2 linked regions of the Homo sapiens genome follow. The protein of the gene in region 1 purifies or fractionates together with the protein of each later gene. This does not show direct contact. Each region holds a gene or a part of one and is shown in the gene's direction. Other genes may lie near its edges.

Region 1 (3,549 bases):
ATGATGCGTGACTTAGGATAAGATTTGAATTAAGTGCCCAGCTTGAAACATAATAATTTTTCTGTATAAGCCACAGATCCTCTACCTCCTTTGTGTTAAAGCCTTTATATGAAACAATTAAGTAGAAGCATTCAATAGTGTGTCATTAACTGTTCATACTAATAAATGGATACAGCACATTTTCATGGCCTGTAATGTAGAACATACTATATAAAGTTCTCAGTTTGGGGATGACTAGGTTTCTGGAAGGAATAGAATGCTAAATCAATGGATGGCATTGGGCTGAGAAACACTGCTGCTACTAATCAGCCTTGAATGTGTAATGTGAACATGCAAAAGAGAACATGCATACACTCAAATTTGTACAATGCTATAACTGGAAGTTGAAGGACTTGAATTTTTATATTGTGCTATTGTTATGTTTTCTGTAATTGTTTATATCTAAGGAATTTTTGAGGTAATATAAAAGAAAAAGAGAATAATGAACAATGATGTCACTGGAGGGTTTTTACATTAAATTAGATCATTTTTCTTCTTATTCACAATAATAATCTTAATCTTTAAGAATTAATTATAATTTAATATTATAATTCATAATCTTTAAGAATTAATAATTATAATTTAATATTATAATTAATAATCTTTAAGAATTAATAATATAATTTAATATTATAATTAATAATCTTTAAGAATTAATAATTACAATTAATAATTAATAATAATCTTAATCTTTAAGAATTAATAATAATCCTTAATCGCAATAATAATCGCAAGGAGGAGAAGTAAGTCCCTCCTCCTTCTGTATGAACTTTTCTCCCACATGCTGCTGTATGGTTTAGTGAGAGTGAAGTTCTAAAGAACATCAATATGATTGGTGGGATAATCCAAAGACATTTTTTCAGAATCAAATGGCATGTCGAAGGTTTGTTTCTTGCATATGTATTTACTGGTCCACAGCACAAAATAAAGTGACCACATATACATAGGAAAGTTGAATTTGTACACATACAGCATCTGAAATGTATCTGATGTTCAGCATCAAGATTTCACTGAACATTGTAGAAATGTGTATCTTTTGCATGTATATTTTACATTGATTTTCTATTTATGTACATCTAGAAAGTTTTAACCCTAATAAATAGTTTTGTAATTTTGAATAATAGTGTCAGTTTATATGTGAGGGAGTAGAGACAGAGAGGTTAGCACTGGATAATAATTAGTAAGGCCAAAGGAGAAAATTTCATAGAAAATATTGTTGTTGTCATAATGAGTACAGCATGAAAGGCTTCCTCTACAAGACACTAGTCAAAGAGTTGAGAGCTGCGGTTTCTAATCTTTGTCCATTACTCCCTTACTCCCTATGAGACTGTGGACCTGTCACTTGGCCTCTCTGGTCTTCAGTTTTCTCACCAGTAAAACAAGGAACTTGAACCAAATGACCTCTAGTGTTCCCCTTGGGTTTAAATGTCTATAAATGTTCAATGACTAGAATGTATTGCGTTTTTCTTTATTCTTTTTGCTTTGAGAAAAGAGAATGTGATTTAAGAGTAATAATTTGAATACCAATTATCCACATTAAAATTGTGTCCTCTATGTGTAAGGCATAGCACATTTAGCACACATACATAAGCACACTAAGCACCTTACAAATATCCTCATTTATTCTTTACATAATCTTTTGAAATTGATTATGTAATACACACTGTTTTTGAACAATTGGTGACTTCCAGCTGTTTAAAACAAACTACAGTATGGTGCTTGAGTACTGACTTAGGAGGTCAGCATTGGTTTCACTAGGAGCTTCTCAAAGCACGCTGCCAAACATGCTCCAGTCTCATTGTCAAGGCCTTAGACCAGGCAATCATTACGGCAGTGGTTCTTCAACTTCAGCAGCAGCAAAACGATCTGGCGGGGGCTTGGTGAAACAGACTGCTGGGCTCGACCACCAGAATTTCTCATTCAGAGGGTCTGGCCTGATCACTTGCATTTCTAATCACTTCCCAGGTGATGCAGATGTTTCTGGTCCAGGGACCCCAGTTTGAGAACCACTGTATTAAAATTTCCTTCATCTCTATAGAAATGGAAAGATTTTTTATAAGTCCTCTAATTTGCTTTAAGATAAATGAGATTTCACTTAATTCTGTTGGAGAAATTGTTTTAAAAATTGTGCTAAAGAACCGAAAATCACTTTATGTTAAGGCTCTATTTATAGCAAGTGAACTTTTCATGAGTTAATAAAGGCCTACAAAAATAATTTTGACTGTGAAACTAATTAAAATCTCTGTGTTTCATTTAAAGCATAAACATATTTGAATAAAAATAGGTTAACAATAATTTGGGACATGTATTCAGTATAATTTTAAGATAATTTTACAAAATATATGTAACATTGCATTTGTTTCTGTAAAATATCTTCGGAAAAAGCCTTGTTTTCCCTAGTGTGTTATTTGTTGAATTTCTTGTTAAATGTATTTTTTCCCATTGAAAAAAATGTTTTTAATCAATGTGATCAATACAGCTATCTATATGCCCTGCTTTCACTGTAGAATTAGAAAGTGTTAATAAGGTGATCGGATGTTCTTTCTAAGGATCATATTCCACATTTAAAGAGATGGTGACTGAGAAGAGGTGGCAAGCTGAACCATCTCACTTTGAGATTGACGTATCACGTTTTATCCTCTGCCATCATTTCCTTGTTAATTGTTTTTCTTTGGGTGATTGGAAGAATCTATGGCTTCCTTTTCTCTGTTCTTAAAGATATCAAGACTCTGCCCTTTTGTGACTGGAAGTAGATTTTAAATGTCCCTAATGTTTATATGCTCACTTAAACTCAATACATGGAATTTACTGGGGCATTTAACTTGTTCATGAAAATAGAGTGAGTCATTGAAAAATCAAATCTTTAGTTATGATTAAGTTATTGTTTTTACCTAAACTGGTTCTACCAAACTCACTCTTTAAAGCAGAATCTGGAATTGGCAAGTCTGATGTAATGCTGATCTTACACATATTAGATTAAATGACCTAATAGAACCAGCTACTGCGCCCTTTCTTATCAGAGTAGAAAAACCCATTCTCTGGGTTTACTCCCAGGAAATACATACTCAATGCTCACTCAGACGTTTTATATCATGACGAAAAATCAAGAAAGGGGTGAAGTGGAGCTAGGGAAGGGTTCAATTACGGTGTAAAGAAAGAAGGCTGCCTATTCATGACAATGGAAACTTTGTCTTCCTCTCTTTGTGTTGGAATTTTTATTTTTATTTTTATTTTTATTTTATTTTATTTTATTTTTTAGACAAGGTCTCCTTGTCTCACCCAAGCTGGAGTGCAGTGGTGCAATGATCGCCTGACCTACCTCCACCTTCCAAGAGTAACAGTGCTCCTGCTCCAATGTGACCTTACAAATCTTACATAGATTTCTCTGTGGTCAACTCTAATCAGCAACACTCAGAGACACTCAGTGAAGAAAGCCCTGGGAAACACTATTTAGTTTAGCCCAGGGGAAATTACAAGGCCATGTCACCTTGAAACTGGAACATGAGGAGA
Region 2 (3,819 bases), on another chromosome or scaffold:
GGTTCAAGCGATTCTCCTGCCTCAGCCTCCCAAGTAGCTGGGATTACAGGCATGTGCCACCATACCCGGCTATTGAGTCTGTTGCTTCTGTCTAGTGCTTTATGTTTGGGTGTGTGTATCTGTGTGTGTGTGTGTGTGTGTGTGTGTGTGTATGTGTCCGTCTTCCCGTCTGTGGATCTGGAGACTTTGTGATTGTTCTTCTGCCCATTTGGGTTTTGTTCATCATCTGAGTATCCCCACATGAACTCCCAGCCTCCCTGCCCTGCTCTCCCTCTGGTGGTGGGATCCTTAAGAGGCACCTGGTGACACTTGGTATAGGCCCATATTGCTCTGTGTTGAGGGGAGTGGACTTGAGTCTGGACATGTGTTCTTGCGGATGTTTGTGTCTCTGGGTGTGTGGGCTTATGTATTCCTTTCTGAGACTGTGTTTGTCAGTGTCTGTGTCAGAGCATGTGTGTCTCCAGGGTCTCCTCCAGGGGGGATGTATTGGTCTTACAAGTGGATGTCCGGTATGATCCTGGGGTGTTTGAGTGTTGGGAGAGGGCGGTATGTGTAAATGTGTCCATCCATAGGGATCTCCACATGACTTCTGCCCTCCCTTGAAGCTGTTTTCTGTTTCTTTCAGCTGGAAGGCGACACCATCACCCTGAAACCCCGGCCTTCAGCTGATCTGACCAATAGCAGCGCCCCATCCCCATCCCACAAGGTACAGCGCAGCGTGTCGGCCAATCCCAAGCAGCGGCGCTTCAGCGACCAGGGTAAATGCTTTTGGGAGTTGTAGGTGGGGACTCACCCCTCTCCAGAGAGGTTACAGGTTCTGTGGGGACTTGGGTAACACAACTAAGTTTCAGTCCTGGTTCAGCCACTTATTAGTAGTGTGGCTATGGGCAAGCCACTTCCCTTCCCTCGCCTCTGTGGAATGGGGGCTTGCTGGGTTGTTGGCCAGCCCTGTAGGAAATGAGCATGCGTGGGGCTGGCACTCAGTGGACCCCTTGGCCTTACCCATTCCCATCCTCCCTCTGGCCCAGCAGCTGGTCCTGCCATTCCCACCTCTAATTCTTACTCTAAGAAGACTCAGAGTAACAACGCAGAAAATAAGCGGCCTGAGGAGGACCGGGAGTCAGGGCGGAAAGCCAGCAGCACAGCCAAGGTGCCTGCCAGCCCCCTGCCCGGTCTGGAGAGGAAGAAGACCACCCCAACCCCCTCCACGGTGAGCCGCACCCCCCGCTCTCTCCTTCCTTCCTGCGGTGGGGCCTGCCCTCTCCAGGCAGCTCTTCTCTTAATTCAGACTCTGTTCCCTTTGGCTACTACTTCTGCTTATAGCAGGAAGCCTCGCTCCCAGCAGTAAATGCAGAATCCTTTCCTTAACCTACCACTGTCTGCTTCAGGTGGAAGGGACAGGAAGCCTGTTCCATGAACCTGGGGGGAGAACCTGGCTGTAGACCACTTTGGCTTTCTGATAGAACGCTTGCCCTTTATTCCCCACAGAACAGCGTCCTCTCCACCAGCACAAATCGAAGCAGGAATTCCCCACTTTTGGAGCGGGCCAGCCTCGGCCAGGCCTCCATCCAGAATGGCAAAGACAGGTGAGAGACCCGGGCCCTGCCTGCCTCACTCCCTAGGAGCCATGTCTCACAGGGTGATGTCTGTCAGCAGCACCGTCTCCTGTCCCTGCCAGCGCATTGCTCCCTGCTCCCTGGAGTTCCATCCTGGCTGTGTCCAGTCCAGCTTTCCCCTCCCCTATTCCACGCCATTGCCTCCTCCCCATCTTCCTCTGACTGCTACTTGCAGTTTGCCAAGTGTGGGGCTGACCGTGGCCATCTCAGCTACATGCTCGCTTCTTGACCACGGCCAGGGCATGGCAGCTGCCCTCCTCTAGACATGAGCAGCTAAGGCCTTGTGTTGGGGGTCCCAGCTCAGGGCAGAACCAAGAGATGCCCACCTTGAGGGGTGTACACATAGAGGGCGACTCCAGCCATCCCCATGAGACCAGAGCTCCCCAGCCTTCACCGGCCGCATTTCTTGGTGTTGCATTCCTGGCTCTATCTCTTCTGAGTTTATGAAAGTTTCCCCTCAGCAACACCCCACTCTTTCTGTAGAAGAAACTCTCCTGTTCTTAAAATTCTTAGGAGGCCAGTGCAGCCTGGAGGCAGCGGCCCCTTGTCTGCTCTCCTTCATTTCTGATTCCTCTTCCCAGGCACTGACCCACCTCGCTGCTTCCCGACCTCACTCACCTCCACTTCTCAGCCCCGCATTCCTCAGTTCTGACTTGCATCCCGCTGCTGCCCAGGCCTGACTTCTACCCTGCCAGAGCTCCCCAGCTCTGGCCCTTCCCCTGCCCTTGCTTCCTAATCCAGGCCTCCCGCCCTCACTCACCCCTAACACGGGCCTCTCCGCTGCTTTTGTTTCCTAGCCTAACCATGCCAGGGTCCCGGGCCTCCACGGCTTCTGCTTCTGCCGCAGTCTCTGCGGCCCGGCCCCGCCAGCACCAGAAATCCATGTCGGCCTCCGTGCACCCCAACAAGGCCTCTGGGCTGCCCCCCACGGAGAGTAACTGTGAGGTGCCGCGGCCCAGGCAAGTGTGCTGGGGCAGCTGGTGCACCTGCTGCCCTCAGCCCACCCTACCCCCTTGCCCCAACAATTTCTTCTTCCCACTTGGGGGTCCTGCTGTGTTCTTGTCATCTTAGCCACAAGAAATGGGTCTGTCCCCTGCGGCCAGGAAGTGGAGGGAACAAAAAAGAGCATTAATGCCCCTCTTTTCCAGTTCTCCCTCTCAGAACAGGTATGCAGGAAGCTGTCCTAAGGCTCCAAAGGGAAACCTTTTTGTTCTGAACCTTCCAGGGTTTCCTTAGGGACCCCGGGGATAGTCGGCATCACAGGGACTCAATCCTCAAGGGTTGGTCCCCATTGCCGCCTTGAGGGTCCAGTCTGCCCGGCTCCCAGGGAGCCCGCTGTCTCCAGCCTAAACCACACTCCACACAGGGGTCCTTCCTTGCCTCCCTCCCTCCCTTCCCAAACCATCTCCTTCCACTTCCACGAGACTTCCTTCTCACCACTGTCCTCAGTAGTCACACCCTTCCTTCTGTGTCCTCGTGATGGCTGCCTCTGCCCTAGCATCCCCCTCCCTGTCCCCACCACAGGGTGTCCAGGTGCCCAGTGATGGCTGTCCTGTACCCTAATTCGTCCCCCTCAACCCCACTTCTCTTCCCACAGCACAGCCCCCCAGCGTGTCCCTGTTGCCTCCCCATCCGCCCACAACATCAGCAGCAGTGGTGGAGCCCCAGACCGAACTAACTTCCCCCGGGGTGTGTCCAGCCGAAGCACCTTCCATGCTGGGCAGCTCCGACAGGTGCGGGACCAGCAGAATTTGCCCTACGGTGTGACCCCAGCCTCTCCCTCTGGCCACAGCCAGGGCCGGCGGGGGGCCTCTGGGAGCATCTTCAGCAAGTTCACCTCCAAGTTTGTACGCAGGTAAGCAAGGAGCTTTGGGTGGCAGAGAGGCTCAGGCCAGGCCTTCCTGCTTTACTCGGGGTGGGTTGGGGGTTGGGGGTTGGGGTTTGGGACACTCTGTACCGGTATTGGGTCCTGGGGTTAGAAGAGGCTTCAGGAAGCACAAGAAATTAGGTCTTTGTCAACACCTTATGTGCCCAGGCCCACCCCTCTTAGGCCTCTCCCCAACTCCTCACAGGCACCCCTCATTCTCTGGCCCCAAGCAGATGGCCGATGCCGCCTCCTCTCTAGGAGAGTGTGAACTCAGATGCTAAAATAAAAGCCCCCCCTTCTCTCCTGGGTTCCCATGGAAACTTATATTTGGTGACG

What was found.
Region 2: the proteins of MACC1 (region 1) and MARK2 purify together in Homo sapiens (affinity purification with mass spectrometry; one large-scale study listed by BioGRID and IntAct). This does not show direct contact.

Annotation. Positions count from the first base shown.
Region 1 is NC_000007.14:20,134,005-20,137,553, reverse strand, and holds the end of MACC1 (metastasis-associated in colon cancer protein 1), read left to right. Parts: 3' UTR 1-2,899; downstream 2,900-3,549. UniProt on the Homo sapiens protein: Acts as a transcription activator for MET and as a key regulator of HGF-MET signaling. Promotes cell motility, proliferation and hepatocyte growth factor (HGF)-dependent scattering in vitro and tumor growth and metastasis in vivo.
Region 2 is NC_000011.10:63,901,573-63,905,391, forward strand, and holds part of MARK2 (serine/threonine-protein kinase MARK2), read left to right. Parts: intron 1-625; coding exon 626-758; intron 759-1,028; coding exon 1,029-1,210; intron 1,211-1,488; coding exon 1,489-1,586; intron 1,587-2,413; coding exon 2,414-2,575; intron 2,576-3,213; coding exon 3,214-3,471; intron 3,472-3,819. UniProt on the Homo sapiens protein: Serine/threonine-protein kinase. Involved in cell polarity and microtubule dynamics regulation. Phosphorylates CRTC2/TORC2, DCX, HDAC7, KIF13B, MAP2, MAP4 and RAB11FIP2. Phosphorylates the microtubule-associated protein MAPT/TAU.